Homo sapiens: one gene and its partners. The protein of the gene in region 1 purifies or fractionates together with the protein of each later gene. This does not show direct contact. Each region holds a gene or a part of one and is shown in the gene's direction. Other genes may lie near its edges.

What was found.
Region 2: the proteins of STX16 (region 1) and STX6 purify together in Homo sapiens (affinity purification with mass spectrometry; 2 studies listed by BioGRID and IntAct, with this or other methods). This does not show direct contact.
Region 3: the proteins of STX16 (region 1) and NAPA purify together in Homo sapiens (affinity purification with mass spectrometry; 4 studies listed by BioGRID and IntAct, with this or other methods). This does not show direct contact.
Region 4: the proteins of STX16 (region 1) and VTI1A purify together in Homo sapiens (affinity purification with mass spectrometry; 2 studies listed by BioGRID and IntAct, with this or other methods). This does not show direct contact.

Annotation. Positions count from the first base shown.
Region 1 is NC_000020.11:58,668,265-58,675,294, forward strand, and holds part of STX16 (syntaxin-16), read left to right. Parts: intron 1-1,026; coding exon 1,027-1,189; intron 1,190-2,247; coding exon 2,248-2,339; intron 2,340-2,889; coding exon 2,890-3,033; intron 3,034-5,366; coding exon 5,367-5,447; intron 5,448-7,030. UniProt on the Homo sapiens protein: SNARE involved in vesicular transport from the late endosomes to the trans-Golgi network.
Region 2 is NC_000001.11:180,972,219-180,977,894, reverse strand, and holds the end of STX6 (syntaxin-6), read left to right. Parts: intron 1-1,248; coding exon 1,249-1,325; 3' UTR 1,326-5,170; downstream 5,171-5,676. UniProt on the Homo sapiens protein: SNARE promoting movement of transport vesicles to target membranes. Targets endosomes to the trans-Golgi network, and may therefore function in retrograde trafficking.
Region 3 is NC_000019.10:47,491,057-47,498,086, reverse strand, and holds part of NAPA (alpha-soluble NSF attachment protein), read left to right. Parts: intron 1-2,490; coding exon 2,491-2,537; intron 2,538-2,942; exon of another isoform or gene 2,943-3,059; intron 3,060-4,485; exon of another isoform or gene 4,486-4,593; coding exon 4,594-4,671; intron 4,672-4,912; coding exon 4,913-4,968; intron 4,969-5,041; coding exon 5,042-5,126; intron 5,127-5,967; coding exon 5,968-6,072; intron 6,073-7,030. UniProt on the Homo sapiens protein: Required for vesicular transport between the endoplasmic reticulum and the Golgi apparatus. Together with GNA12 promotes CDH5 localization to plasma membrane.
Region 4 is NC_000010.11:112,464,214-112,471,243, forward strand, and holds part of VTI1A (vesicle transport through interaction with t-SNAREs homolog 1A), read left to right. Parts: intron 1-333; coding exon 334-444; intron 445-7,030. UniProt on the Homo sapiens protein: V-SNARE that mediates vesicle transport pathways through interactions with t-SNAREs on the target membrane. These interactions are proposed to mediate aspects of the specificity of vesicle trafficking and to promote fusion of the lipid bilayers.

The DNA of each region.
Region 1 (7,030 bases):
AAGTCCTCCAGCTGTCAGCGTAGGTACCTGTGAGGCCTTGGAGGTATGGGGACTGTTTTTCAATTGTTGGCAGATAACTGCTGTGGACGGATTAAGTAAATATGAAATTTCAAACATTATCGAGTTCAATCATTTGATTTTAAAATGTATAACTAATATCGTATACTAGTGTTAAGAAATTTCAATGCTAAATTATAGTCCTCATAATTGAAAAAACAACTTAGTATCCTAGAAAAAATTTTTTATAAATATTAAATTTGATTAATTTTAAAATAATAGGACTAGTGTTGAAACCTCAGTGTTTACATTTTTTACTGAAGTCTCCTGGGTGCTAATTATCAGAGGAGTGTGGTGCTTTGAGAAAAGCCCTGGGGGGTTGGAATGTTGGAACCCTGGCTCTTAGCAGTTTAACAGTTACACGATTCTCATTTAATCCCTCTGACTCTAGTGTTCTCATCTGTAAAATGGGACTAATAATCATAGTACCATCCTCATAGGATGCTTGTTAGGGATTAAATGAGAGGAATGCAATAATAATATGATATATGATAATACAGGTTGAACATTCCTAATCTGAAATCCAAAATGCTCCAAAATTTGAAACTTTCTTTTGAGTGCCAATATGACACTCAAAGGAATGCTCATTGGAGCATTTTGGATTTCGAATTTTCAGATTGGGGTACTCAACTAGTAGGTATTCTGCAAATATTCCAAAATCTCCCGAAATTTGAAATCCTAAACATTGCCAATCCCAAGCATTTCGGATGAGGGATACTCAGCCTGTCTAACGTGATGATATGTGAGCAGCTGGGCACACAGCAGGCCCTACATAGCAGGAGCTGAAATCTAGTGAAATCTTTCTGTGTATATAAATGAAGCCACAGATTCCTTTTATCTGTTCACCTTTCTCTAAACCAGACTGAGTGAACAGAGCCTCTCACTTCTCACTCTGGCTTGTGATGTGGCAGTGTTAGCAGAGGGGCTTCTCTCCCAGGCTTGCCCTGAGCCTCGGGCTTGTTCTCTTAGCTCTTCCACAGGTGCCAGCGTGCCGTGCAGGCCCTGCCGAGCCGGGCCCGGGCCTGCTCCGAGCAGGAGGGGCGGCTGCTTGGGAACGTGGTGGCCTCGCTGGCGCAGGCCCTGCAGGAACTCTCCACCAGCTTCCGGCACGCACAGTCAGGCTACCTCAAACGTGAGTGCTGCCCGGGCCTAGTGAAGGGATTTTGAGTAAGAAAAGCACTTTATGTTTTCTTTTTTGCCACTATTTTTTCATTTAGTCCAGTACCTTTCATTGTTAGCTTTTGAACATGCTCATACCTTGTACAGTAAAGGGAAGCCTCCTCCCCATGTGAAACCCTGGCTTGGAATGAAGGCACAGCGTGGGGTACCGACCAAGGCTGGGGGAGGGCACCAAGATAGTTCAGCATCTCAGCAAACAAAATTTGTTTTGTGTCAAGCTGCAAGAATTTGAAAATCAACCAAGCACATTTTAAAAACCTGTTGTTTTCTGGATGTTGGGGTTTGGGAGAGCTGCTCTTCAATAGGTAAAAAGCAGTTGTTATTACTGAAAGCCACATATTTGCATAACAACCAAAGTGTTTGAGAGCACCTGAGAAAACCTCCCCAGGGTCCTTGAAACACTTCCTCTGCTGGCACCACAGGTTTCACCCAGCAGACCTTTTCTTCCCAAATAGTGCAAAGCCAGATTTCAGCTCTCTTCTCATTCTAATCACCCTGTAAACTGGGTTTTTTAAAATTGCCCTTGCAATCAATAAAGTCCCCACATACTCCAAAAAACCTAGTTCTCCCTCCCTCTGACAACTGGCATATTTGTATTTTAATTTTATTATTTCCAAAATTTGATTAGGGCCATATGGAATTCATACTAGAGATGCTTCTAGAGAGAAATACTGATTTTTTAAAATGTTTTGTAACAGCAGTTAGATTAAATATTTCTGCTTCACTTAGAGATTCTCAGATGGTTGTGTCATTTTTATCTTGGCATCAAGTGAATTGTGCACATTTACACTGTGACTTTTGTCTTGAGTAATCCCAAATGCCTGCATATTGTTGTATGTTTGTAATCCTTTACTCTCCCTCCACCCCCATTGGAGATAGGCTTCTTTAAAGCGGCTAAGAATATCTCAATTTTGACTGTTGGAGTTTACTCTAGAATTCCCCCTTTTAATGGTAGAACAATACTCAGGATGGTTTACATATTCAAGTAAAATGAATTCCTATCTGTGATAGGCATGAAGAATCGAGAGGAAAGATCCCAGCATTTTTTCGACACATCAGTACCACTAATGGATGATGGAGACGATAACACTCTTTACCATCGGGTACGTGAACGGGCTGCAAAGCTGATTGCTGTGTCTGTGCACCCCATTCTGCATCTTTCACCTCCTAGACCTCGATCTTCTGTGCAGTGTCAGTGGATTGATACAGTTGACTTGTATATTCATCAGGTTGTTTTGCAGCAGGTGGAAGAACAGCCGTACTGTTTCTTCCTTTCCAAAGGCCACAGGGAGACCTTGTAATCTGCTTTCCAGAGCCTTTGGGAAAGTGGTCAACACCCTGCCTTCTTAGGAAGAGCCCAGAGAAACAGAGGGCTATCCCGGGGGTTTTGTTTATCTGCCCTTGTGGAGTTGGCAGACGTGGGCTTCTGTCTTCCCTGCTATGGCCTCAGAGCTTTAGATCCTGCTGGTTTAGGGAATTTGAATCTTTCCTGTTAGGGAAAAATGAGTGCTTACTGTGCTTTGTAGAAATATTTTCAGAATTCATTTTCTTTAAATTATTTTCATTGTCTTTAAATTATATCTAAACAAGTATACCATAGCTTTCCTGAGAGGGAAAACAATCTATCCAACACATTGTGCACTGTCTTGCTAGGGTTTTACAGAGGACCAGTTAGTTCTGGTGGAGCAGAACACACTGATGGTGGAAGAGCGGGAACGAGAGATTCGCCAGATTGTACAGTCCATTTCTGACCTGAATGAAATATTCAGGGACTTAGGGGCGATGATTGTAGAACAGGTACGTGAGCTGGCCTTCCTCGTGAATAGGTTTTCCTGCCATACTATCTGTACCTTCTTTTTCCTGTACTCCTTTCAGGGAAAAAAATTGGAGCCAATTTTCCCAACATGTGTGTGCACCTGTCCTTTATGTGTGTGTGGGTGTGTGTGTGTGTGTGTGTGTGTGTGTGTGTGTGTATATTAATATTAATCAAATATTAAATTTGATTAATTTTAAAATAATAGGACTAGTGTTGAAACCTCAGTGTTTACATTTTTTACTGAAGTCTCCTGGGTGCTAATTATCAGAGGAGTGTGGTGCTTTGAGAAAAGCCCTGGGGGGTTGGAATGTTGGAACCCTGGCTCTTAGCAGTTTAACAGTTACATGATTCTCATTTAATCCCTCTGACTCTAGTGTTCTCATCTGTAAAATGGGACTAATAATCATAGTACCATCCTCATAGGATGCTTGTTAGGGATTAAATGAGAGGAATGCAATAATAATATGATATATGATAATACAGGTTGAACATTCCTAATCTGAAATCCAAAATGCTCCAAAATTTGAAACTTTTTTTTGAGTGCCAATATGACACTCAAAGGATATATATACATAGCAATCCTAATCAGAAAATATGAAGTTCAAAATGCTCCAGAATTCAAAACTTTTTGAGTGTTAACATGATGCCACAGGTGGAAAATCCCTACACAAGACCTCATGTGACAGGTTGCAGTCAAAACTTTGTTTTATGCACAAAACTAGTAAAAATATTGTGGCCGGGCACGGTGGCTCACATCTGTAATCCCAGCACTTTGGGGGGCTGAGGCACATGGATCACCTGAGGTCAGCAGTTCGAGACCAGCGCGGTCAACATGGTGAAACCCCGTCTCTGCTAAAAATACAAAAAAATTAGCTGGGCATGGTGGCAGGTGCCTGTAACAGCTACTCGGGAGGTTGAGGCAGGAGGATCGCTTGAACCTGGGAGGTAGAGGTTGCAGTGAGCCGAGATTGCACCATTGCACTCCAGCCTGGGCAACAAGAGTGAAACTCTGTCTCAAAAAATATATATATATATATTGTATAAAATTACTTTCAAGCTATGTATATGAAACATTAATGGTATATGAAACATAAAGGTATAAGAAACATTAATGAATTTTGTGTTTAGACTTGGGTCCCATCCAGAATATCTCATTATGTGTATGCAAATATTCCAAAATCTAAAAAAAAAATCCCAAATCCAAAACACTTCTAGTCTCAAGCTTTTCAGATAAGGGATACTCAGCCTGTATATGTGTGTATTTACAAATTATATACATAGGCTACTGTCATTCCCTATAAGAATATTAATAAATCTTTTTTTGATAAATGAAGTTCTAATATTCTCTTCCCATGCCTCGAGGGTACTCATGTGAGCACCCTACTCTAGAGACCTAGTTGACTCTGACCGAGCTCAGCAATGATTCTGACGCTATAGAAGATTTCCCTTCTAATTTTGGCAGGTTATTGTGTAATGGCAATTGGAACCACTAGCGTTCAAGTAGAATTAAATTGTTGTTCACCGTTAAAATCTGATTAGGGCATTTTATTATCTTGCCAGCAGGGATTTGGGTCCTGATCCCCCTGAAACCAACTGCAGAATGGAGTGTTCAGGCTCTGGAAGATCCAGTTACATTAATTACTCCAGTGGTTCCCAGTGAACTGCTATCTCTTCTAATCCAGCATGTTTCCAATAAAAGCTCTGTTCTTCCTCATAGCCCAGTGTCCCCGTCTTCCAATTTAATTGTTTAAGAGATTAAACAATTAAACATCTTCCCCTTGAGTCCAAATTTTTAATTTTAGGTGGTAGACTGGAGTTTACCATTTCCTGCTCTGACCCATAGAGATGTGGATCCACGTTTATAGACGTGATAGTCAATTTGCAGGTCTACTTATGACAGGGGCGAGCTTACCTGGTGTTCTCTGCTTACTTGAATCCAAGTACGTAGGCAGCAAATGGGCGCAGAGCTTCTGTGCTGCTCAGAGCCTCTGTCCACTGGACCATAGATTTCTTAGGGCCCCAGGAAGTCCGAATATGGCATTTCTATGGCAGCTGAAACCAATAAGGAAACCTCAGTCTGTCAGTACTTCTTTCTCGTGAGCTAGATGTGATGGCACTAACCAGCATTCTGCCATCGAGCTCCTGACACTGCTTGAGGGTGAACTCCAGAGCCCTCCGTGTGTACCTGCAGCACACAGGGAAGGAAAACATCATCTTATGGATGATGATGTCTGTAATTTGCATATCTCATTTTTGACGTTCAGTTTTCCCAGTTGCTATTGTTGATTGTCTGTAACTGTCATTTATTACCTAGGGTACAGTCCTTGACAGAATTGACTATAACGTTGAACAGTCCTGTATCAAAACTGAAGATGGTTTGAAACAGCTTCACAAGGTAATATGTCTTTCAAGACTTGGGAATCTTAGGAACTATTTTCAAATAATCAAGAATTGGTAAGAGGGTTCTTTTCCACCATAACGATCTTCAGCATTCTTGTGTTGTCCACTCTCAATACAGTAGTGTAAAAAGGGATTCATCATTTCATTTAAAGCCAATTGTGGGGGCTGTTGCCGTTTTATTGCAGTTAATGATTCCAGGTGTATCTCACACTTAAATCCAAAATTGCTAAGAACTCCTTTTTGTGACAGTAAATTCTAAAGAGATTGGAGTTCTTTCTTTTAGAAAATATTTCATTCTTTTCTAATGCTTCTTGTTTTAGGAAATCAATTGGGCATTTGCTAAAATATGTGTTGAAAATCTGTCTGCTTGTTGCCGTTGACTTGGGCCTCTCTTGTGATACATTCCTGATGAATTGCTGATGGAGAATCATTCTGCAGAAGATAAAAATCTAATCTTCTCTTTAATTACCACAGCATATCTGTATTACCTTGAGAAAAGAGAAGTTTGTTGAAGTGAGAGTAGTAATTCTTTTATTCTGTGCTAATAAGGTAGCTGTTTCAGGGATGTTTTTATGATATTCTCTTTTAAAAAAATAGATGGAAAGCATCTTAGGAATCTTATCGGTTATAAGAAACATGCATAAACGGCTGAGACTCTCATATATAATTGGTTACGTATTTTCTTTAAAAGGAATATAACAATACTTCACAAATTAAATAATATCCATTTCCTTGTATCTTTGAGACCCAGTGGAGTTTCTAGCCATATAATGAGTGTTTTGCCAATTCACTGTTGGACTACTCTACCATTTTTCTGAAATCAGTCGCTTCCTATACCAGAGATCGCCCCATTTAATAGCAGTATTGGGTTTACAAAAAGTCAGCCCTTGCACTAGTCTAACCAGAAGCCCTGAGCTGTCTTTTCAGGGGGCTTGTTGCCATGTGTAGGTGGATATGAGACTCCAGCCTGTGGTGGGAAGAGAAGTCTGACCTTGTCTATGCAGGGTTTTTTTAAGCATTTAGATTAATTTGGTTGCCAAGCCCTGTCTATTAAAAGTGAAAACTAACTTAAGTTTCTCACTCTGTAATACCCAGGTTTTGATGTGCTGCTGAATTATGCATTGGTTTTGAAGTTTCTTAAATAAAAACTAGTGAAATATGTTTTGTAATATAACACAGATAAAAGGAAAAGCTTTCTCTGCGGGAGTGAGCAAATCTAGTGGGAACTAAAAATTTTGTTTTAGGTTCTACTTTATAAATCATTTTGAGAGGTTTTACAGTATATTATTTAGTATTGGCTTCCCTGGTGTTCTGGGTTACTTATTAGAAAAGTCAGCGTGCTCCATCTTCCCTCCAGCCACAAGGCTGTAGGCAGCACGCGCGTGCTCGGCAGTCGGCTAGTCTAAGGGTGATTGAGCGTCGGGAGCTGCTCCCCATGACCGGACTCTCGGTGCTGTCCCCGTGCCTGATGTTTCCTCCTGGTGGATGAGGGGCTCCTCCAGGTGGGCGGGCAGGCTCACTTAGGAAACAAGCCCACCGCGGGGGATGGAGCAGGAGAGATTGCCATTCTCGCCAGGG
Region 2 (5,676 bases), on another chromosome or scaffold:
CTTATAATTTGGTGGCAGTTCTCTTGTCCAGTTCTAAGACTTTGATATCCATAATATTTAAAATAATTTTAAGTACATGTTTTGCCTTGTGGAGAGTTTAGCAGTTTATTTTCATAGATTGAGATCTTTTTGCAACGTGATTCTCAATAACTATAGTGTGCTAAAATCAGTGGGCTTTCAAAGAAACTTTAGTGAATCAATATGTCTTTATATTTCTATTTAAATGGAACTCTTATTCCTAGTGGTTGTACTGCATTTTCATACGCTAGTGAATTCTGTTATCAGTCGGGCCCTTTGTGGAAGATGCCAAAACTCATCAGTGGAAGGACTGCTCATTTTTTCTACATGTCTCCAAATTAAGGAAGCATCCTGATGTTGACAGCATCCTCTGTGCCCTAGGTTTGGGTATTGCACAGTGTGTGTATGACAGGGTTGTGTTGTTTAATTCTCACAACAGCCCTGCGGGGCAGCTGTTGTAGAGTTGGGACCACAGGATTGTGAGCTGCAGCAGGGCTCCCCCAGGGCCTGTCTGGGCCCTTCTGTCTCACAGGGCCTCCCTGCTCTCAGCCATTTGGATGGACTCTAGTCAAGTTGTTTCCTGTGCCTGCTGTTCCAAATTGTTGGTAGGGCAGAAAGTTTCAGAAAAAAAATTCCACTTTCATTTACAGAGGAGCTGTACAAGGTACTTTAACACAGTTACTAGTTAAGTAATCTTACTTGACTAGGTGTGGTGTGAAATTAATCATGCTGTCTCACTGGAGCTTGCTTTTTCAGCTGTATATTTCCTGAAGTGACCAGCAGTAGCTTTCATCTCCTTTCCCTCCTCCCGTTGTGCTCATTGAGAAAAGAATGTGATTATTGTTTAATTAAATGACTTGACTTTTATGGGAGATTAAAGCAGGCAGGCTTTGATCTGTAACACCATTGCCAACACCTTTTTTGAGGATATGCTAACTACCAGCAGAAAGCTAAGATCCGCAGATTTTAATTAAAGACTTGAGACACAAAGCATGTAATTATTACGAGACATTTTCAGGGGACTGGCAAAGTTGTGACTGCATGCGAAGTGCAGGCCAAGAACAGAGCAGCATTAGAGCATCAGGCACCTAGGCAGGTGTAAGATCATGGCCCCGTCATTTGCACGTTCTGCCCCTTTTCTGCTTCAAAGGGTGCCATAAATTCCATATAACTGTATCTTGGGGAATGTGGAGTCCCTGTGAGAGCTAATCCCCATGTCCTGCCTTCCAGATCGGCGCCAATGGTGTGCCATAGCCATCCTCTTTGCAGTCCTGTTGGTTGTGCTCATCCTCTTCTTAGTGCTGTGACGGCGGGGCCTCTGGGTGCGAGTTCCTCCTGCATATGAACCGAGGGGAGGAGGAGAAGCTGAGCACGTGTGACATTGCCGTCTACTCACATTCCTATCCTGGAAACATACTGCTGCACTGACTTTTCTCCGTGTGACCCCACAATTGACATGGCTCCTCCATCCCAGCGCTGGAAGGGCCAGTGGGAAGAGGAAATAGATGTCTGCACTCCTGGCTGCAGCTGGACAACAGAAGCCCCATGCCGCCTGTCCAGTTCGGAGGAGAACTAGCTGCTGCCTTGCCTTCCGGGACCTCGTTTGCTGAGGAGGGACTTACAGACTCCACTGGTGTTTTGCTGTTGCTCATTCCATGCATCTTTGGCAGCTCTTTTCTTCTGCTCAGACCCTTCCCCGTGCTCAGACAGTGCACCGCTGTCCCATCTAAAGAAACCTGTCAGGAATACGAGCTTCTGGGTATGTTTCGTTTCCCATTGCTGTAGCATTTCTTATCCCCTGAGAGCTGATGATTATTGAGGACAGAAGGCTCAGAAACAGTTTGTGACAGAAAATGCAGTGTTTCATTTTTCAGGGATAAATGCTAAGATAAAATTGCTTTTCCAGGTCATTTTTTTTTGTGGTAAGAATAACTAATGGAAAATAATGAAACACCCTGGGGTTTGGGGGTGCTAACAACTTGTGGCTTTAACTGACAGGAGCAATTAAAAAGAGCAAGAGGGTTCTGCATTGGCATAGCTTAGGGAAGGGTTAATGATGTCGCCACAGGTCAGCTCCTGATCCTTGCCGACTTGATGTTGCTGTACCAGGGCTTCCTCCCCAGAGGTGCAGCTTGCGTTTTGAGGGTGATTGCTACATATGTTGTTGCTAAACAGCTCAGTAACACACTTGAATGAATTTGGATACCAGATTGTCCTCATTACAGTTCTTTTACTCTTAGGGCACTCTACACTGGGGGTTGGGGTTGGGAGTGGTTAGTACATTTATTACATTTATTAAGAAACGTAATGACATAAAAGGTTAGCTCTGGGCCAGACTTCTCTTACTCTGTGGGTAATGGCAAGGATGTGTAGGTAAACTTGGTTCTTTTTTTTCCCTAAGATGACAGCTTGATTTTATCATCTGCAGTCAAATAACTGAGCCAATCCAAATTTAAATGATAGATGCTTTAATTGAGTTTAAGTAGCTGAAACTGCTGAGACACTAAACTTTAACCTTCTGATGACTTTTTAAAATGCCTCAAATGTGCACATGTATATAGGATATTTTTATAACTTCCCTGATGAATAATCTGATATTAAAGTAGTATTTGGACCCAGAGCCAGAACTCGGTGGTGGAGGCTGCTGGTCTCTCCTCACCACCTTCTTTTGCACTTGGAAAGAACAGCAACATCTGGATAGAGTTCTAGCTTTGACTTCTCATTTCCTTGTCTTTTTGGGTGCATTCCTCAGCACACTTTTTTTTTAAACCTTTTTGTTTTGTTTTGTTTGTATTTCATGTGGTTTTATTTGGGGGTTTTGGTTTTTTCACCCTTTTTTGTGATTTGCAATGATGTGCTTGCCCAGCTAACTTTTGAATTGCACTTTTTAATAAATATTCTTAACAATTTTTGAAGAAGGATATTTTATCTCATTTGAGATCATGGTAGGTTAAGAAAATATGCCTGTTGATGAAAGCTAAAAGCAAATTTATGAAACTAAAAGGGTGATTGACATCCATGTTTACACTCCGCTCTAATGTTTGATATATAAATAAGTTATTTTCAAATTAGGAAAAAACAGTGAGTATTACAAAGGGCTTCAGATGTTTAGAGTACTAGGTTATTTATGTTTTACAAAGTTTGAATCTTCTATAAACTAAGAAAGGGGATGATCCTTAGATTTGCATTAAAATATAGAAGTCTTTTAAAGTAAATGTGAACCTTGTCTAAGTACTGTAATCCACACAACACATTATAAGAAGCAAACCAGCATCTTAAGGAATTATAAAATTACCCTATTTAAAAGCCATGCTATTGTTCTGCTATTACCAGATTTATTGTGCCACACAAAAGGATCATGTGTGTCAGCAGGGGCCGTTTGGAACAAACCTAGTCATTAATGAGTAAGATACTCCTGTTAGTTCAGGGACCAAGTTTTATGACCCAGAGGCTTAATGATGTTTGGATATATTTCAAATCGGCGTGCTTACCTCACTGATTTAAATTATTTTCTAAATAGTGGCCATTGTAGACCTGACTCAGGCTGAAGCTAAATAGAGAACAATTTAGAAAGTTAACTAACAATACAGTGCATTCTACCCGTAGGGCCACCATGCCCTTCTGCCCCTGGCTGATTTGATCCTGTGTCTGATCCCATTGCACCCTGACTGGGCAGTCCCTACAGAACCAGTGTTAATTTGAAGGGCCTCCACTCAGGCTCCAAATGTGGCAGCCAAAGAGAACAATCCAGGGAACCTACATTTATTTTTAAGGACAAATATTTCCTCCTCAGTGGTCCTAATGTTCAGGGCTTTAGAGGGAACCCAGGTGGTCTCTTCACCCTGTGTCCTAGAATGGGAGAGTAAGTAGACAGTGGTGATAACCCCACACTGCTTATAAGTGCATCTTTATAGTATTTGGGGCTTTCCTACCCCTTTAGCCTTCTGTACCTAGTACCATATTCCAGTTTTAAAGAACTGGCAGAATGTGATGGATAACAGAGGAAGAGCTCAATTTATGTTTATTGGAAGAACATTTTACTTAAATGATTTGAGGGGTGGGAGGGAGTGAACTACTGAGTTTGCCAGAGTGAAAATCCATCTGAAAAACTCAGCTACCTTTAGTTTTTAGTCCTCATTTTTGGTCTTGTCTCTGCGGACTGTGAAGAATCACAATGCTCTATATGCCCTGGACTGTGTGGCAAATGCAGGTTGCAGCGTGTGTGTTACATGAGGATCTTCCACAATTTCAGAATGCACGCCAGAGCTGAAGGGGGAAACTTGGTAACTTGCCCATTATTCTCTGCTTTTAGCCAGAGTTAAACAGACTGATGGGTCTGGTAGCCAACAACTTGGCAACTTCCACTCCTTCTCACCTCGTGAGATTAAGGGCTGTGAAAAGAAATCTAGTCTAACTCCAACAGAAATCTGTCTCTGTTAAGTGTTTTACCTTCTGTAAGTAGAGATGGTAGAGCCAAGATTTTTCTTTTGGTAATTTCCCTGTCTATAAAGTGAGACCAAAGGGATATCTGTTCCCTGTTACCTTTTTGGAGAATTCATAACATTTGAAGATCAAAAAATTGAATGATAAATATGAATGGCTTTTCAATTCTGTGGACTTTGTACCATTTGGCTTCACCTTGTACTGCAAGATGAATTTGTAAACAAAACAAAATTGGACTGTCTGGAAAGCTAAAGTTCTGAAATATGGAATGTACTGCCTCTAATTTTTCTTTGTCTTCCTCTCACTGGCATTTTTTTCTCTCCCAGGTTTCTTAAGAATAATGTTTTTTAAAGGAGGCTTTTTGCCCATCAAGAATAAAAAGAAATAAAACCAAAGGGTTACCGGACTTAAGCCCCCGCAGTCACTGTGCGCCATCCCTGAGCAAAGTCCGCCCCTGAGGACAGTGCCCCTGCCCCAGTGACAGGCCTTACTCCTCCCAGGGCCTTTGCTTCTAATAGGGGGTGGTCTTTCTTTTCTTTCTCTCCTTTTTTTTTTTTTGATTAAAAAATAAAACCAAACCAGAATTTGCTGAAAGCAGGTACCTTTCAGTAGCTCCGATCAGAGTAACTCAGCTTAGAGATACTGTTACTCAGGACAACAGTATGTACAAAAGTCTCCGGAAAAGGAAAATAAAACAACCTGAAAAGAATTCAACTTGAAAAGGACTGAATTACTAGAATGATCATATAGCAGAATAACACAAAATGCAACAAAGAGCCACCCAAGCCTGAGGGTAAGACCTCTACTTCCCAGATTCTTGGATCATAGCCCATGACTTCTTGGGGCACAGAGGCTGGCTTCAGCATGAGGATCTCACCACTAACTGCATGTAACTCATCCATGCCTTGGGCAGAGGCTAAACACACGGAACAAGGCCACCAGACAGGTACACATGAACCCATGAGAGCGGTGCTCTCTGTAGAGTCTATAGACCTGGCAGGGACCATGGATAGCTTAGAGGTACTTACTCTGCAGCTGGTCACATAAGACCCTAGACTGGCCAGGCGCGGTGTCTCACACCTGTAATCCCAGCACTTTGGGAGGCCGAGGCGGGCAGATCACGAGGTCAGGAGATCGAGACCATCCTGGCTAACACGGTGAACCCCATCTCTACTAAAAATACAAAAAATTAGCTGGGCGTGGTGGCGGGTGCCT
Region 3 (7,030 bases), on another chromosome or scaffold:
CCCTCTCGCAGAGGGTGGCCTGCTGCCACCTTGGTGGCTCTGGGTGGGGAAGGGTGATGCTCATATGTGTTATTGGTTCCTCAGTTACCCAACCATGGCTGCTGCTCAGGGCAGACTCGGGCCAGCGAGGCCTCTTCCCAGGCCTGCCTGATAGTTGGGGGTGGGGGCAGTGTGTGTACCTGGGGCAGAGAAGCGACCTGGCCCCTGCTTGTCCCCCACTTCCTCCCCAGCTGCCATTTACTGGGTTTCTACTGTGTACCAGATGCTTGGCATCTTTTAACCCATTTGATTTCTTTGTGCATTCTGTGATTTGCCCCCATTTTACTAAGGAGGAGATGACCAAGTGTAACCAGGAAGGGCTTCAGAGACGCAGAAGTCAGGTTGGGCGTCGCTGGTAGGAGTGACTGCGGGGATGGGCGGTGGCCTGGGCCATAGCTCCCCAACTTGGGCTGTATTGCTCTGAGCCCCTTTCCAGCCCTCTGTGGGTGGGTACAGGAGGGGCCAGGCCACAGAACTGGGTGTTGCTCTGCCTGTCCGAGTGCACAAGGCCTGGTGACCTGAGATAAGAGTAGCAGTCATGAGTGTGTCAGAAGCTCGTCCAGGAGCCAGCTGTCCCAGGTGTCTGCTGGTGGCCCGCCGCTTTCCAGACATGGAGGGGACTTAACCCCGTGAGTCCATGTTGCTGCCTGGGGGGTAAGCTGTCTCCCTGCTGCTACTGCAAGGACTGTGCCATGCTGACGGCGGGTGCTCCAGAGCCAGTGCCAGCAGGCCCAGGTGGCAGCTGCAGATCTCACTGCTCACTGCGGAGCAGCAGCCTTTGCCGCCTCAGCCCACAGGGTGCCAGGTTGGTGTCCTGGGTGTTCCGGCCAGGAGAGTGAACCAGTGAGCAGCCCGGGGCCTCCATGTGGAGACTGCAGCCAGGTGGGGCGGGGCAAGGCGGGCCTCTCACCTCACTCCAGCTGCTGCTCTCCTCTGCAGCGTGGCCCGGCTTAGCCGTTGCTTCTGGGTCCGCCGATTACAGGATGTATGTGTCTTCAAACTGCCGGATTTAGGTTGTGTTCTCTCCCCTTCCTCCTCATCTGCCCCCTTTTTGCCACCGTTTCCACTGTCTGCTGCCACAGTCTCGGTCTGTCAGCCCTAGAACCTGGACTGAGTGCTGTACCTTCTCTCAGTCCCTTTTAGATCCCCAGAGGTCTTTCTGAATTGGACAAAACCTACAGACCCCACTCCCCAGAGGAGTGCTTATGGACCCCACTGTTTACATGTCAGAAGGAGGGGTTGGACTCCCTGAAAGCCCAGCCACAGACCTGAGACAAAGAGCCTCTGTCCAGATGCCTCCCCACGGAGGGAGTTTGGAGTCCCATCCAGACCGTGAGCCCCTTGAGAGGAGCCCAGCCCCGGCGCTTCTTGGTAGCACCCTCTTCTCAGGCGAACATGGCCTGGGTGACCATGGAGACCCCCACGGTGACCAGGAACTTTCAGATGCCCAGGCTGAAGCTCAGAGCCCATGCCCTGTGGCCTGTCCAAGCTCCCTGCCTTTCCCTCTCCCCAACCCAGGCCTCCCTCCCCACAACACCCCTGTCCTCCTGAGATGTGCTAAAATGGTGTTCTTAAAAAATACCCCCTGAGAGCTCATTTCTGTCTGCTAGAAAATGCCTCCCACTCATGCTTTTCTCTCTCCTCCAAATAACTTGTCAAAAAAAAGCCTTTCCCAAATTTAAAATCTTGCAAGAGATAGTACAACAAAGGTAGCCCAGTTCTTCCTCAGTGCCATCCTGGTGTGTTCAGGTTTTTTGGCAAAACCTTTGAGGAGCTGGTGGGTGGCAGGACTAGGTTAAAGGGACTGAGCAGAGGGCTCCCGACTGCTGAGCTACGAGGAAGAGGGGGCAGTGGAGAGCACACTGAGGGCTCAGTGTTGATGACATCCAGCCTCCTCGTGCCAGAGGTCCAGGTCCTCCTGGTGCAGGAGCAGAAGCTGCTCAGGATCCTGCAGAGATGGTGGCAGAGCCCAGGTAGAACCTGGCACCCTGTTGCCTCCAAGACCACCTCAGATGCTGGTTTGGCCGCCTCCCATGCCTCCTTCCCCTTTGCCAGCAGCTCAGTCCTTCAAGAGCAGGGCCTTGGCAGGTCTGTCTTAAAACACCGTGGGAGTCTGGCCATCATCCTGGCCTAGCACTGCTGTGCCCTGTCCCTGGGGTTGTGGGAAGCTGGTAGCATCCTGGCAGCCCGAGGAGAGAAGGGCTCCCCCAGAAGCATGTGCCCAGCAAGTCACAGTCTGCAGAGTCAGCCCTCTCACCAGATTTCCTGGGGCTCAGGGATTCCGTCCCCTTCTTCCCAGCCCCTTGAGAGTGTGTGGCAGCGCTGGCAGCTCTGAGCGCCTATTGATCTCTCTGCTGGCAGCCAGGTGCGCCTGCGTCCGCCTCCTCTCCTCAGCTTCTGCTGAAACGACTTCACTTTCTCATGTCTCCTCCCACCTCCCTTTCTCTCCAGAGGCCATTAACTGTTTGATGCGAGCAATCGAGATCTACACAGACATGGTAAGGGCTGCTTGCTTGTCCTGACACCCCCGGGTCCCACTGCATTGCCCCAGCCTTGCGTCCCCTCTTTCAGCACCCCCAGCACTGTTCTTATTCTGCGGCCAAACCACTTGGGGAGGGGGAAGTGGGAGCTGGGGGGATTAGGTCACCTGAGCTGGCCTGGGCTGGCTGGGTCTTCACCCAGCTCCCCACCAGCCTGACGGCCCCCTCACTCCACAGGCAGTCATGGTTTTCATTCATAGAACTTAGGTTATTGAGCTGGGCAGGGTGGCTCATGCCTGTAATCCTGGCATGTTGGGAGGCTGAGGTGGGAGGATCTTTTGGGCACAGGAGTTCGAGACCAGCCTGGGCAACATAGCAAGACCTCCTCTCTACAACAAATTAGCCTGGTGTAGTGGCATGCACCTGGGGTCCTAGTTCTTGGGAGGTTGAGGCAGGAAAATCGCTTGAGTCCAGGAAGTTGAGGCTGCAGTGAGCTGTGATCACACCACTGCACTCCAGCGTAGGCGACAAAACAAGACCCTGTCTCAAAACAAAAAAAGAAATTAGGTTACTGGAGAGTGTGTGTCCGGCACTTCCCCTTGCCCAGCCTTCCCGCAAGTGTCACATTTGATAAGCATCTTGCAGCAGGCCACAGGGATAGGCAGAGCCCACAGGAGGCTCAGCACCTGCCCTGCCCCCAGGGCGCGTTGCCAACGACAGATGCAGACCAGATGGGCAGCTGCCAACTGGAGCCAGAGTGAAGGGTCCCACCCAGGCCGGGGCTCCTGTCAGTGCTTTCTCTCTCTCTCTTTTTTTTTTTTTTTTTTTTTTTGAGACAGAGTTTCTCTCTCATCTAGGCTGGAGTTCAGTGGCGTGATCTCCACTCACTGCAACCTCTGCCTCCCAGGTTCAAGCGATTCTCGTGCCCTAGCCTCTCGAGTAGCTGGGATTACAGGCGTGTGCTACCATGCCTGGCTAATTTTTGTATTTTCAGTAGAGATGTGGTTTCACCATGTTGGCCAGGCTGGTCTCAGACTCCTGACCTCAAGTGATCCACCTGCCTTGGCCTCCCAAAGTGCTGGGATTGCAGGCATGAGCCACCGTGCCTGGCCAGCTCCTTTTTGCCTCTCCGCTTGCCCTGTCTGTCTCAGCCCTCCAACCCCAGGCAGGGACACGAGCCCTACCCCTTGCGTTCAGGGCAGTGCTGCAGGGATGACTGTGATTAGAACAATAATAGCAGCTGCCATTTATTAGGCCAGACACTGCAGGGTGGTTTAATCCACAGCCCTGTGAGGTTGGCATTATTGTCATCCCCGTTCCTTAGTGGAGGAGAGGGGCTCAGACAAGTGACATGATTTGCCCAGGGACATGTGGCTACAAGCAGGAGTCACTGAGACCCGAAACAAGGTCTGGCTGAGCCCAGGGCCTTGCCCTTTCCTACTGCCCTCAGCAAGGGGGTGGCGTTGGACCAGCCCCTGGTGCAGAGCAGTTAGGCAAGCGCCTGGACACTGGGTGGAGGCGGATGGAAGGTGCGAGGCCCCTTGGAACCTGAGGCCTCCCTGGGGAGCTCTGGGTGTGCCTGGGGGAGGCTGACAGATAGGTGTTGGCCTGGGGGCAGAGCTGGTACTCTTGGGCAGAGGTCTCAAGCCCTCCCTCCCATCCTGGTTTCTCCAGAGCCCTTTGCCAAGTGGCTCTGGACTGGTCCTTCCGCCTCTCTGGCTGTTATCAGAGGCTTCCTAAGGGCCAGGGCCTTGGCCAAGTGCTCGTGCTCACATTCTCTCTGGTGTCACACCATCTGTGCCCTCGTGGATGGGATGGAATTAGGCTAAGGCCCTGGAGTGGCTTGTCCAACATCACCCGCTCAGCCCAGCACGCATAGCCAGGCCTCTAGTGCTGGGGCCCTCCCTTCTCACTCCTGTGTTCCCCCACCTCTCGATCTTCTTCACACCTCAGGTCTTCTTCATACCTCCTCACAGGCGTGGCTGAGGGGTGGGAACTTGAAGGGTCATAGGTCAGCAGGCAGGCACGCAGGAGGTCATGAGTCGCAGGCAGCCCCTTCCTGTGTCCCCTCCAGGGCCGATTCACGATTGCGGCCAAGCACCACATCTCCATTGCTGAGATCTATGAGACAGAGTTGGTGGACATCGAGAAGGTGAGTGGCAGCAGGGCCCTGCATGGGCTGGCAGCCAGGACCAGTGCTGCTCTCTCTTCTTCCCACCAGGGGAGTCCTCTGGTGTCTGAGTGCCGAGAAGGGGGCATGGGGCGCCGGCAGAGCTTGGAGAATGGGGTCTGGCTGTGTCCCAGGCAGGCAGGGCGGAGGGTGTGGAAGCTTCACGGAGGCCTCCTCTCCCTTCCCTGCCCTCCCCTGGAACCCATCCCCCGTGTCTCCCCAGGCCATTGCCCACTACGAGCAGTCTGCAGACTACTACAAAGGCGAGGAGTCCAACAGGTAGCCCCCTTCCTGCCTGCCCCAGCCCCGCAGGGACCGCCACCACTTCCCCTCACTACTCCTCCCCACACAGCTCAGCCAACAAGTGTCTGCTGAAGGTGGCTGGTTACGCTGCGCTGCTGGAGCAGTATCAGAAGGCCATTGACATCTACGAACAGGTGGGGACAGGTGGGGATGGCGGCTTCCACCCTGCCCCCTCTCAGGGCCTGTGCCTCCTCCTAAGCCCCGGCACCTTGTTCTGGAACCACCCCTCCCCCGGCTCACCCTCTGCCTCTCCCCCGACATCCCTTGCCATGTCATCCCCCCACCCTGTCTTCAGCCTGGCTGAATGTTCTCCACCTACGACTCCATGCCGTGCCAGCACCGTCTCTCTCCCTGGCTGTGCCCCTCCCACACCCCTCGCAGAGCTTCCTGGAGGGGCCCAGAGTGAGGCTGGCTAAAGAACCCAGAGGGAGGGAATGGGAAGAAGTGCCAAGAGGCCCAGGGTGGCCGTGGGCACCCCACCCCATGGCCCGATGGTCCTCATCCACAGTGGGAGGGAGGGAGTGTCACATGGGGTCCCCCCAGCGTGCACGGAGCCCTGGGTGATGGCCGAGAAAAAGGCAGGCAGCTGGCCCCCTGGGAGAGAGGGGCGGGCGCCGCCTCTCATGTTCCCACCGCCTGCCGCCGCTCTGCCCACCGCCATGCCAGCCTCCCGTTGGTCCTGACAGCCAGGCTGCCTCCTTCCCACTGTCTCAGGCTCTCAGAAGGCCCACGAACACCTGGCTACAGCCTCCACCCCCACCCAGCCACCATCACACCCTGATCTTGGTCGCTCACGCACTGGCCGCTGACCTCTCCAAGCTGGTCCCTGGCTCCCTGCCCTTGGGGTCCTGGGTTAACAGGGCCTCACCTCGGGACATGAACCAGCTCCCAGCTGGCCCCCCAGTGCCTGGCAGTGGCTCTGGCCCTCTGGCTGCTTGCCCTGAGCTCACCAGTGCCACTTCTCCATGGCTACAGGTGGGGACCAATGCCATGGACAGCCCCCTCCTCAAGTACAGCGCCAAAGACTACTTCTTCAAGGCGGCCCTCTGCCACTTCTGCATCGACATGCTCAACGCCAAGGTAGCACACCCCACGCCCGCAGGACCACCGCACCAGGCCACCATGTGCTTATCTCCAGGCCAGGTCCCGTTGCCCCCGAAGAGGGACGTGCTCCTCCCTCACGTCTGGCCCCTGCCAGCCAGCCTTTGGATGAGAAGTGTGGTTCTCACAGCTGTGTTTCTGTGCTGGCATCACCTGCCCACCCAGCCCTGGAGGCTTTTGCGGGTCCAGCTCCTGCCTCACTTAGTGCTCTTTCCTTCATGGGTGCACTTTTTGAATCCTCACTGCACCCCATTAAAGTCAGCACCATTGTCACCGCGTCTTATGGGTGAAGATGGTGAGGCTGGGACGAGAGTCCCTTGTTTGAGGCCACATGACTAGGGACCTGCAGCCCCAGTGTTCCAGATCTTTGTGACTCCTGCTGTCGTGGCTTTAGCTGTAGCTCACACATGCCCACCTATTTTCAGGACACTTGGCAAAAGAGGGGCCAAAGAGGGCAGTGGGAGGGGGCGTGGCCAGCGGGAAGGAGCTGGAGGGTTGGCGCTAGATTTTGCTTGGCCGGAGTTTTTTTACCATTGCCTGGCAGAAGCACGGAGTCCAGGATTTCCTGGTGTCCCTGGCTCACGGCCTGGGGTGGTGGCCCCACACACCCCACACACACACACCCCACAGAGCCCTGCCCTGCTGTGGGCACCGGTGGTGGGCAAAAGCTTGGGCTTTGTCAGACCAGGTTCCCATTCCCACCCCATGTCTCACCGTGCCCTGGGCAGGTCACTGCCCCTCTCTGGATCTGTTTCCTCACTTTGAAAAGGGGGCTCACCGTCATTTGACCCTCTCAGGGTCCTCAAGAAGCACCAGCCCCAGGCCTGGCATGGAGGATGTGCTCATTTGTCCCCTGCCCCAGCTGAGCCAGGTGGGAGGAGGCAGTGGGTGCCTATCTGGGGAACCTTCCCCCTCCACCCACCTCTCCCTGCAGCCA
Region 4 (7,030 bases), on another chromosome or scaffold:
TCTCAAACTCCTGACCTCAAGTGATCCACCCACCTTGGCCTCCCAAAGTGTTGGGATGATGGGCGTGAGCCACGGCGCCTGGCCAAATGTATATGTTTTAACAAAGCATGTACTTGAGCACAGTGTGTGTCACTTGGCAAGTACTCAGAATTGTTGAACTAAAGAAAAATTAAGTGTAAAAGTAGTTTCAGTGTTATTTGATCATTCAGCACCCTGAACCTGGTGCCTCAACTACAAAATGAGGAACTGGAATTAGATCCTTTCAGCCGTAAACATTTGTTCAAATAAGAATAACAGTGTGTTTTAAATCACATTTTTCTTTCCCTCTTCTAGCTTGAACAGATGGATTTGGAAGTCCGAGAGATACCACCCCAAAGTCGAGGGATGTACAGCAACAGAATGAGAAGCTACAAACAAGAAATGGGAAAACTCGAAACAGATTTTGTGAGTCAAATTCGACCCTTTGTCATATTTACTTTTTTTTAAAAATGTTTCCTCCTCATGCCTCAGTCAGCATTAAATGCACAGTCTTTTGGGCTCATGTAGAAGACAAGTAACAGCTTTCATTCTTTATGAGTTAGGGATCTAAAAAATGGTTATAGAGATAGCTAATGGTGGAATTTAAGGTATGTTGGATTAATGATTCACAAATAGATCCAAATCATGCGGCCCTTTGAGTCTGAATGGTATTTACTGATACTTAACATTTATTAAAATTTTGAAACTCAGTTTCTGGCCTTTCAGGGTTTGGAGCCTTTAAGAGGCAGCCTGTACATTTGCAGCTTCTGGACTTCAGGGGCTCATAGTCTCCTGAAAGCATATCTGTATTTTTGGATGCATGTTTCCATGTGTATTTTTCCCTGGGATAAACTCCATAGACTTTATTAGATTCTTAATAGGATGTATCATACCCTTCCCCCAAAAGATAAAAGAAACCACTTTCAATTGACAGTTTATATGTGATCCTTTTTATTAATTGCCCATGAGAATATGTAGCTGTCTCTTCCTATATATCTGGCTTTCAACCGTATCTGCTTTATAGCAAATTTAAGAATATAAATGTAAAGACATAATGTTAAAGTTGTTAGTAATTAGAAATTAATAGGAGTAGAAAAGATACAGCTGAGTAATTCCACTCCTGAGTATATGTCCAAAAACAAATTGAAAGCAGAGTCTCAGAGAGAGATCTGCACATCCATATTCATAGCAGCATTTTCACAATAGCAGAGAGGTGGAATCAACCTAAGCATCCATTGTTAAATAAATGGATACACAAAATGTGGTATATCCACACAATGGAATATTATTCAGCCTTAAAAAAGAAAGGAAATTCTGTCACATGCAACAACTTGAATGAACCTCGAAGACATTATGCTATGTGAAATAAGTCACTCACAAAGACAAATACTACATAATTCCACTGATATGAGGTATCTAGAGTAGTCAGATTCATAGAAACAGAAAGTAGAATGGTAGTTACCGGGGACTTGAGGGGAGGGAGAAATGGAGAGTTGTTTCATGGGCAAAGAGTTTCAGTTTTGCCAGACTGAAACTTACAAAAATTTCTGGAGATTGGTTACTCAACAATGTGAATATATTTAACACCACTGAACCATACACTTAAAAATGGTTAAAATGGTAAATTTTATATTATGTGATTTTACCGCAATTAAAAATAAAAAGATACAGATAAAAAGTATTTTAAAAACCCTGCTAATGATAAAAGAACAAAGAAGTTAACACAATAACAACTAACTGTTCTTATAGGCTGGCACAGGAAATTAGGTTTTCAGCAAATTAATGAAATTTCATATGACTCACTTTAAAAAATAAAAAGATACAGGCGAGGAAAGATCTGAGCCTTACCTATGAGCAACAGAAGTCATGTGTTGGGTGATAAATCAGCTGTATTTCTGAATCTGGGGCCCAAATTCACAAGGAAAGTCAAGAATGTTTAAGGATCTTTCCGCCTCAGTTCTTGCCTTAGGTGTTTTGCTTTTGGAGGGTACAGCTTCTAGGCTACCGTATACCTTTCCACTGTAAGACCAACATCAATGGACCTGGTAGAAATCCCTCCTAGAGTCTGAAAATAGGGTGATTTGCAGTTATGCATGCTTGTTTTGTATGTGAATGGCTACTATCTTGATAAGTTGAGGTGGATCACATCAATAACTCTGATGCCTTTTAGACTGGGCTCCTATTAATTAAAAAAAATTAAAACTCATTATGGGCCCAAATTGATAAAATAAATATATATGCCTAAGTATGTGCCCTGTACTAGGGTAACATTTTCTCCAACTGCTTTGTGAAAGGCTAGTTTTTCTCAGTAAAAATATGAAATATAGTGAGAAAATTGGATTAAGAACTTGACAACTCAAATTTATACTGAGAAAATTCTACCTGAAGTTAAAGTTTCAATATAAATGATGAAAGCAAAATAACATGTTTATAAAGATTGTTTTAGCTTGCTTACCTCATTTTTAATGGAACTCTTTTCTGAAGATTTTTCTTATGGGTTCTAGAAAAACAAAGGGTATGAATTTGCTAGGGCTGTGACAACAAAGTACCACAGACTGGGTGGCTTAAACAACAGAAATTTGTTTTCTCACAATTCTGGAAACTGAAGTTGGAGTTCAAGGTGTTGGCAGGTGTGGTTCCTTTTGAGGCCTCTCTCCTTGATCTTTAGATGGCTTCTCCCCATGTCTTCATATGTCTTCCCTCTTCACGTTTCCATGTCCCTATTTCCTCATATAAGACATCAGTCGTATTGAATTAAGGCCCACACGAATGACATCATTGTAATGTAATCACCTCTTTGAAGACCCTATCTCTGGACAGTCACATTCTCAGTATGGGAATCAAGACTTCAGCATATGAATTTAGAAGAGACACAATTCAGTTCATAATGTTTAGGTCAGTTTTAATCTTTTATTCTTAATTTTTTTTTCAGAAATTAAATTATTTCTGTGGCTTATAAGTCAGCTAACCCAACCTTTAGTCTTTTTTGTTTCTCAAAGAGTACAATACTGGGCAAAGTCCTTTAGGTATTTGGAAATTGTATACTTGGATAAGTGTTCCTTTCTGGGCTATATTTTCTATTATAAAGAAAAATGGAACCAACAACTATGAAACTAAAAATTTATTCTCTAGGCCAGGGATGTCCAATTTTTTAGCTTACCTGGGCCACATTGGAAGAAGAATTGTCTTGGGCTACACATAAAATATCCTAACACTGATGATAGCTGATGAGCTAAAAAAAAAAATAGCAAAAAACCTCATAATATTTTAGGAAAGTTTATTAATTTGTGTTGGGCTGCAAAAAGCCATCCTGGGCTGCCTGCAGCCTGCTGGCCATGGGTTGGACTAGCTTGATATAGGCTATCATTAACAATTCATGTATTTATATGTATATTTGCTACCACAGCTTTCTTCTACCATGTTAGGAAACATCTTTCACCACCACTACTTCTATTGAATAGGGATTTACAGTTTGTAAATTACTTTAACATACATTATTTCATTTCATTGTGTGAAGAATAGACAGAGCAGGTATGGATTACTATCCTCATTTACACATGATAGAACAAAGAGGCTTAGATTAATTATAGATTTCATTCAACAAGAGTTTCTTGAGTACTATGGTGTGTCAGGCACTGTCCGAGGTGCTAGAATGCAGCAGTGGTGAACAAGATAAAGTTCTACTTGTCATATAGTTTAAATTATAGTGGGGGAAAAAATCTAGTGGGAAAGACAACAAACAAATACATACACATTATAATTTCAGGTAGAGATACATTATGTAAAGTGAATAAATGAATAGAGAGTGACCAGCAGGGTGATTGTGGCCATTTGTGCTTGGGTGTTCTCTACAGTTGAAGAGAGAGGAAGAAACGTGTGTGTGCTTGCAGAGAAAGCAGAGGAAAGATCTGTGAGGGCATTGTAGGCCGTGGTAAAGACCTTGGCTTTTACTCTGGGTTGCAGAAAGGCCACCGGAGGACTTTGAGAAGTGAACGGTCCTTCGACTCCTGTTTTACAGCTTTGTTCATTTTACCACACCATCTCACATGGTATATTTGAATAGAGTGTAGAAAATATTGACATAACTCCCTTGTTTTAATCATTATTTCTTTTATAGATCTAATCTTTTTTTTAAATGAATGGAGAATATTTAAAGATATTTGATAACTTTCGTATGCTGACATGCCATACCTAGAAATACTGAATTTCAAGAAAGGCTAGCAGAGATGGTTCTTCAGCTCTGTGTTTATTGCAGTTGAAGCCGTTCTTCTGTTCCACTTGTAATAGCAAGACTTCAGGGGAGCATTTATGCCCATGGGGAGGGGCAGAGGACAACTCAATACTGTTTTCTTTGACTCGTTTGTCCACTTGCTTTCTTTCCCCAGCCGTTCCTTCTCCTCTGCCTACCCTTTGGATGCCTGGATCCTTCAGGCTTCCTCAGTACTTACTCCCATAACCTCCTCTGTGTGTTATCATCTTTCCTGTTCCTTCCATGGCTGCGTCTATACTGACTGGTATTTGTAGCCCAGACCTCTTGGTAGTTCTGGGTTTATATTTCTTACTATTTATCCCAGAGTCTTTTAAACACACTCAGATTCAACAAGTACTGGTTACTTCAGAGTTATCGTTAATTTTTCAACCTTGTACATCCACTGGGTCACTGAGAATTAGCAGATCTACCACCTAAATATCTCTACTACTGAAAGCCTTCATGGTTTCTCTATCTGGATAATTGTAGTACTATTTCCTGATTCTGTTCTTCTGTCATTCAAAACCCTGTACACCATTCCATAATTAGCTTTTGAATACACTGATCTGTATATGTCATGCCATTACACAAAATCCCAGAGTCCTCATTGCCTGCTGAATAAAATCCAGGTCAATTTCTAGGTATTCTATCTTGTTCCATTGCTTCTTCACGTGTCTAATAATTTTATTATAGTATACTTGCTGTTATGGCCTCTATGTTGTTATAAAGCCTAGATTTTATTGTTATTTTTTAGAACAGCACAGCTCAACCTTTTTTTTCATTATCACTTCTCCAAGGATACTTTTTAGACATGTTTTTCCTAATCGTCCCACTCCTTCCCCTATTAAATTTTAATACCACTGATATTCTGTATCTGTACATCTGTTCATGTACTATGGCTCCTTGGAGGGCCACACATCTTTGTAATATCTTAAGATTCATCATACTCCCAAGAACTAATTTTTGCCTCTGTGGACATGATATTGCTCCTGTTGACAATGCATGCTTTAGACCATGAGAGGCTTTATTCAGACAGTTAGATAATTTACTGGCAAATCAGATTGGTCCTTTCAGAGTTTATTGTTAGACTTTTTAGAACACATTTTGAGTAGCCCTACTTTTATGATTTGGCCTTTCTTGGGTTCCTTTTGAATGACTGTAGTGTTTAATAAGTGCTCTCTCGCCTATGTTTGTTTGGAATTCCATCTCTCTGCCCTGGGCAACCTCTAAAATATCCATTCAATCCATTACTCCCCAGTAGCTGTTCTCTGTGAGACCTCGTGGGGTCCCATCCTCTACATATGCAAGTTCATTTTCAGCCAAAGACTTAGGGGACCACTTTCTCGATTTCTGGAGCTCCTTCTCTTTGTGGCTGCTTCTCACCATTACCCTGCTATGTTTGATGATGCATCCCAGCAGTCCTAACTCCAGTGTCTGCCTCCTAAGTTCAGTGACTTGCTGCACTCCCTGTGGGCTCCCCCTCCGTGTGCTGCAATTGGGAAAGTGCCTCCAGGCTGAGAGCCATGCGGGGCTCATTTCACATGTTTTTCTTCTTTAAGGAATTACGCTCCTCCACTGCTTGTTGTCCAACTTTGGAAAATAATTGATTCATCCATTTTGTCCGTGTTCACAGTTGTGTAGAACAGGAGGGTTTGTCTTGTACCAATTACCCCACCATGGCAGGAAGTGAAAGTTCAGTGTAGATTTAATGTTTCTTAATTCCTTAACAGATAATTTTATATATCAGAGAATGAAAAATAATAGTCTGCTGTTTACTGTTGAAACTTTCCCTCTCAAGGGTTGAGTCGAAGTATGCTAAAATGAATTGACACTGGACAGATTAATGGGAAAAACCAAACAAAATGTATTGTGTGCGTAAGTACAGGGGCCACACGCAAAGTAAGAGACTCAAAGTAGGGCCACATAACTGAAGCTTTTATACTGTAGTGCAGAAAAGCATAGAGATTTGGAGTGTGGGAACAGGTTTTCAGAGCAAGAACGGAGGAAGGCAAGCAAAGGTTGTCTTGGCTCTGCTGTTGGAGCCTGGCAGGCAGCAGCCCCCTGGAAGAATGGATGGGAGCCTGTGGAAAAGCTTCCTCTGTTACCTTTAAAAGTGCTGGGTGCGGTGGTTCATGCCTGTAATCCCAGCACTTTGGGAGGCCGAGGCAGGCGGATCACTTGAAGTCAGGAGTTCACATACCAATGTTCACATACCAGCCTGGCCAACATGGTGAAACCCCATCTCTACTAAAATTGCAAAAATTAGCCGGGCATGGTGGCGCACACTTGTAATCCCAGCTACTTGGGAGGCCGAGGCCTCCCTTGAACCCAGGAGGCCGAAGTTGCAGTGAGCTGAGATCGCACCACTAAACTCCAGCCTGGGCAACAGAGCGAGAGACTCAGTGTCAAAAAATAAAATAAAATAAAAAAGCATCAGACTTTCAGTCTCCCTTTCCTGTGAGTTCATCTTTCCAAGATCTGGGTAAAGCCAATACGGGTCAGGGTGGGGGCGCTCAGAGAAAGCCTGTTTTGCATTTGCTGTTTACTTAACTAATATTGATTTCCTCTACAAATGCAAATCTCCAGCTTTTCAGAGCCATTTTTGTGTTTGTAGCCCTTCTGAATAGCTATCTCAAAAATACACCAAAGAAGTATATTTTGGGGTGGCATATTTTGGTTTTCTTCATTACGGTGGCTTATCATAGAATATAATTTGTAGCTGACTAAATACCTGTTTAAAGGATTTTAAAATTCATGCGGTAA